Linked DNA regions of Homo sapiens: region 1 is linked to region 2. The links come from fine-mapping of genetic effects on gene expression. Tissue or cell type: stomach. Region 2 holds a variant in brackets; the other region holds the start of a gene. All regions are shown on one strand. Distances are between the middles of the regions.

What was found. PIP is the estimated chance that this variant, and not a neighbour inherited with it, causes the effect.
Region 1: it holds the start of ALDH1L1, and the variant in region 2 is fine-mapped to the expression of ALDH1L1 in stomach (GTEx, PIP 0.93).

What each region holds. Positions count from the first base shown.
Region 1 is chr3:126,179,197-126,181,947 of GRCh38, reverse strand. It overlaps ALDH1L1 (aldehyde dehydrogenase 1 family member L1), which reads left to right and starts at 1,362. Exons shown (of 23, transcript NM_012190.4): 1 at 1,362-1,472. It overlaps ALDH1L1-AS2 (ALDH1L1 antisense RNA 2), which reads right to left and starts at 1,883. Exons shown (of 2, transcript NR_046383.1): 1 at 1,404-1,883. RefSeq lists enhancers at 193-946, 947-1,702.
Region 2 is chr3:126,211,237-126,213,987 of GRCh38, reverse strand. It overlaps LOC124909426 (a long non-coding RNA gene), which reads right to left and starts at 956. Exons shown (of 3, transcript XR_007096060.1): 1 at 1-956. RefSeq lists an enhancer at 1-481. The variant C/T (reference allele first, on the strand shown) is at 1,228.

The DNA.
Region 1 (2,751 bases), 32 kb after region 2:
CAGATATGAGGGACAGCAGGGAGACCTGCAGGCTGGAGCCTAAAGAACAAGGGGACAGTGCCTGAAAGTAGGCTAAGTGGATCAGCAGGCACAGGCCACCTCAATCCTGGGTGCCCATACTGGCTTATGTGAGCAAAATACATGCATTAAGCCATTCAACAAACATTTATTTAGCAACTGCTACAAGCCATCACTGTGTATTGGGGATACAACAGTGAATACATCTCACAAATTTCCTGTCCTCAAAGAGCTTACAGTCTAGTGGGAGAGACAGACAATGAACAAACAAAGAAACAAGGAAATATCAGATATACAGTTAAGTGCTGTGAAGGAAATAGAACAGGGTGATGTGGCAGGGAGTGGCTGAGGGACTTCCTTAGTTTGTGTGACCTGGAACAGCCTCTCTAAGGCTCTGCATCAGATATCTGATATGTGATACCATATGGGAGCAGGCTCTGAAAGAACACTACAAGTAGAGAGGTAAAGGCAGGGGCTGCAGCAAGCCTGATGTGTTCAGGCACTGAGCAGAGAGAGGGCCAGGTGGTCGGGACTTAGCGAGAGGGTCGCCTCAAAAGAAGTGAGGCTTAGCAGGGCACGGAGCAGTGCGGCCGCAGGTGTGGTGGGAAGGGTGTTCCAGGAGAAGGAGCCACCTGGACACAGGCTTGCAGTCATGAAACAATACGCAATTATCACTCCCGGCATTCTACATGGCCTTGCCTGAGACCGGGCTGGCCAGGATCTCTGGGAACCAGGAGGAGGGGTCTGCGGCACCAGGACTGAGTAGAAGGGAGAGAGTGGAGAAGGGGAATTGCAGAGAGAAAACCAGGGGCTGTTTTTCTCTCGGAGAGGCGGGTAGGCACTGGGCGGGCAGAAGCGCCGCTATCCACCCGGATGCGCAGCTGCTAAGGGGCCGCCTCTGCAAGCGGCTGCAAATTCCCGGAGGGCAGCGTCTCCTTTCGCTCTGCTGTGTCCGTAGCACATGGCAGGTACTTGGCCCATCAAGAGTGAGAGAGGGTGAGCGAGTGAGTGAGTCACCGGCTTGGCGAGGGTCTCCTCTGACCCACTTAGCCTTGCCAGCGCTCAGAACTGCCAGCCCTGCTGGGTGCTTGGGACTTTTCAAAGCCCTGGGAATTCTCCAAGGGTCCACAGTAAGTCTTCTTGACCTAAGCGGGAAAGAGCGCAGGCCCCTGCGGGGTTGGCTTTTACATGGCATTTATAGACCCGCCCGGAGAGGGTGCGCTGCGCTCCCGCCATAGTCCCACCACCGGTGAGCGCCGCCCCCACTCGGCTGACTCTCCGCCCGCCCCGCGCCCCTCCCCTCACGGGCTCTGGCCTTAACCAGAGCTCGCGGACTGGCGGGGACAGGTCCCACCTCCTGGCTCCCAGGACGGGTCTGCACCAACCTCAGTTTCGGGGCTGCGGCTCACAGAAGTCTAACCTGCCCGGGACGCCCGCACCAACTCCTGCGCGCGGTGAGTTTCTGGGCTCTCGAGAGCGCTGGACTCCCGGCGGAAAGGAGGCTGCCCCGGCTGCAGCTCCGGGGGCTCCGGGGGCTCCAGGGGCTCCAGGACTCGGTTCTCACCGCAAGGGCTCCTGCGGGGCCCATCAACTTCGCCGCTGGGACGCCGGGCTCGGGGTACGGGTCCGGAGTTCTTTGGAGCAATTGAGGCTGAACCTGGCCAGGGGTCATCAGGCTAAATGACCGCAGCGCCAGGACTGGCCCGCCGAGGATCTGGCCGGCCGCGGTGGTAGGGCCCTTACGGAGCTGGCGCCAACCTGTGGGGTGGGCACTGCTGGCCCGGCTTATGGAAGAGAAAACTGAGGCTCGATAAGAGAAAGGGACCAGCGAAGGCGACGCGATGATTTGTGACTGGGGACTACCTGTTTCCTGGGCCCCTCGACCCCATTCTGTGACAGGGAAAGGTCTTCCCTGATTGGCCAAATCTGGGGGCCTGGCACGAGGGCCTCTTGTGATTGGAGGGGTCGACGTGAGCGCTCAGGGGCTGCGCTGGAGTCCCAGCTCCAGCCACTGCGCTCAAGTGGACGGTCGCGCGTGCAGAGGGAGGCCGGATAGCAGACCCCACAACGTGGCTCCTGGGGCCCCGCTATCGAGAGCTCAGGCCCCGCGGGCACTTGCCTAGGAGAGGAAAGAATCTTCCCAAAGTGCAGACAGAGACGGAATTTAATCAGGAGTCCCAGACTTGGAGTTTGGAGGCATGGGCTCTGGTGTCAGGTGACTTTGTTTCCTCCCCACGCCTCCACTTCTCCTTGACCTTGGGCAAGTTTCTTGTGTTCTGAATCTTAGTTTCTTGTCTCTAAAATCGGGAGGGGCAATGAACAGTAGTGCCTGCCTCCCAAGATTGCTTGAGAATTACATGAGACTGCCCCGCGCCTGGCCCTAGGAAACCCTCGGAGAATGTTGGCTGCTGTTTGTTTGTTTGTTTGTTTGAGACAGAGTCTCGCTCTGTCGCCCAGGCTGGAGTGCAGTGGCACGATCTCGGCTCACTGCAACCTCCGCCTCCCGGGTTCAAGTGATTCTCCCGCCTCAGCCTCCCGAGTGCTAGAACTGCATTCATGGGCCCCAGGGCCCTAGCACCAGAACAGAGGGCCCAGAGCTGCAGTCCTGCAGGGTGGCCCAGCCTCACAGGGACTAGAAGCTGGGTCCTGGAGAGCCAAGCCTGGGCTGGGAATTGGGTAGGAGGGTTGGGAGGCCCAGGAAGCCTCCCAGTGTCCCCACACCACCAAGTGAAA
Region 2 (2,751 bases):
GGGGACAGCAGCGCCCAGTGTCCCTCCTCGCCTCCGCGCGGCTGCTGTCCCTGTCCTTCCCTTCTGTGCCTGGCTGGAATCACGAACATGGAAGGCCCGTCTGCCTTTTCCGCTTCAGACTGCAACAGGGCTTTGCTCCAAAGTGCTGGGAAACGGCAGTTCCACTACTAGACAGGTCTGCACCCCAGAGAAATGTGTGTGCGCGTGCACCAAAAACACACGAGAACGCTCACAGCAACCTTATCCCTTCTAGCCCCAGACGAGTGCCCATCAACAGCAGAAGGGGTAGATAAAGCGGGGCTCACCCTCGCAGTGACCTGAACACGGCAGCGAGAGCACACTGCGTGGATGACACACAGCGCCGCGTGGAAGACGCTAAGCTCCGGGAGCCCGCGGTGTGATCCCCTCGCCCCAAAGCGGCGCAAGGGCCCCAGGCGCCAGGCCCTGCGGGGCCCGGGCAGCGCGCGACGCGCTGTCTCTCCACCTGGGGACGGCTGTCCGGCGAAGCCAGTAAAGCTCAGTAAGCTGTAGCTCAGGGGGCACGTCAGGACGCGCACTCCACGCCAAAAAGTTAAAAGAGGTCTGCGCCAGGGAGGCGCGCGGGCGGGAGACCTCGACTCTCAAAGCGCCTCCTCCAGGCTCTCCGCCGCGTCCTCTGGGGCTGGGGCGGAATCCTCGCATCCCCGCCGGGTCTCCCTCCAGGCCGCCGGGCTCCGAGCGGAAGGGCCGCTTCCATGGAGACGGCTTTTTTGAGCTCGGACAAAGCACTCTGGCTGCGGCGAAGGGCCGCGGCCGCCGGGCGGCGCCTTCCGAGGGCGCAGGGCGGACGCGGAGGCCCGAGAAGGCGCGGGGAGGGTGGGGAGGGTGGGGAGGCGAGAGGCCGGGCCTCCGCGTTCCCGTTCGCTGCGGGACAAAGCTCCCTGTCCTGTCCCTTCCTGGGGGCGCCCCTGCCGTGAGAAGCAGAGCCGGCGGTGGGGCCCAGCCCCTCCCAAGGGCGACTCCCCCACCCTCCACAGGCCGGGGCCTGAAGCCGTCACAGCGGGGTTCGCTGCTTCCCATTCAGGCTGTGATGGCCCGAGGCTCGGCGTGGTCTCGCTCTCTTCTCAATTAATCCATTTTAGGGGGACAGGCAATACATTTACATGGTTCAAACACAAAAATGATGGAAAAGTTAGCTTTGAAATACTTGCTTTCCCCCAGCCCTATCGACCCTGTTCTTCGGTGCCC[C/T]CTAAAGGCACCTTCTGCTCTTTATCTATCACAGGCTTATGCCAAATGCCAGCAAAAGAATGCAGCAGGGCCACTCCGCTTCTTTGTCACAGCAACCGGAGCCTAGGCTGCCCTTGTTGTGTACCCCTCCCCGCCTCCCTCCTTCCTTCCCTTCCTCCCGCCTTCTTGCTTTCCCTCCCTCCTCTCCTCCTTCCCTCCTTCCTTCCTTCTTCCTTCTCTCCCTCTTTCTTTCCTCCCTTCCTCATTCCTTCCTCCCTTCCTTCCCTCTTTCCTTCCTTCCTTCCTCCCTTCCTTCGTTCCTTCCTTCCCTCTCTCCTCCTCCCTCCCTCCTTCTTTCCTCCCTTCCTCCTTCCTTCTTTACTTCCTTCTTCCTTCCCTCCTTCCATCTTCCCTTCCTCCTTCCCTTCCACCCTTCCTCCTTCCTTCCCTCCTTCCATCTTCCCTTCCTCCTTCCCTTCCTCCCTCCCTTCCTCCCTTCCTTTCTTCTTCCTTCCTCCCTCCTTCTTCTCTCCTTCCTTCTTTCTTCCTTCCCTTCTCCCTCCTTTCCTTCCCTCCTTTCCTTCCTTCCTTCCTTCCGTCCTTCCTTCCTTCTTCACTCCCTCCCTTCCTCCCTTCCCCCTCTCCTTCCTTCCTCAGTCCCAGAGCCCTTTCCATAGGCCTGCACAGAGCTTTTTCATTCTTTCTGACATCCGCCTCAAGTGCTCCAAGGTGTACCCATGATCTTTTCAACGGACACCCTGTGGATAGGAACTTGGGCTGTGTGCTTGCCATTTTGTGCTCATACAGGTGTATCTATAGGGTCAATCTCCCCTGTTTTTGACATCCTGACCTACCGCCCGCTGACCCTCCAGCCCCACCATGGCAGTGTATCCAGTGTCAACTACCTGGAGACTTGCCAGGGCTATAAGTCTTGTGGCCCTGACTTCCTGGCTCAGCAGCCGTGAGTCTCTGCCTGCAGGGGACTCCTGCTGAGAGAGGACTTGACTGACCAGATCTGCCTCCTGGGCAGGCCCCTTAGATGGGACCTTGTGTGAGCCTTTGGTTTCCAAGGACCAAACCATGGAAGGCTCAGAGTGACTAAGAGGTTCAAAGACTCTTAGGCAGTGAGGCCCACAGGAGGTAGGAGCCCCCAGCGGTGTGATGTGGGAGCCGGGTCAGATGCAGAGGCGGAGGACGGGTGTGGATAGGGGCAGGCTGGAGGGGCTTAGCAGGGGGACCCCACACACTGGGCTGCCAGCCTGCAGCCTCCAGGGCCAAGTGTGAGGCCTGTGGGTGTGGGGGTCCTGTGTGTAAGGCCTTTGACTTCACCTGTGTGAGAAATGAATATCTCAGCCAGTGGGTGAGCTCTGTGTCCCACCCAAGCATGAAGCCCACTTTCTAATCTTCATGTGAACTTCATGATCCATGATGGAAGCTGATCATGATGGAAGCTGCCTGTGACACCTTATTCCTATCAGTATCCAATCAGTATCTGTCAAGCACTGTGGGAGGCTGTGCAGTTATTCCCAAGTTGTTCCCTGGAGA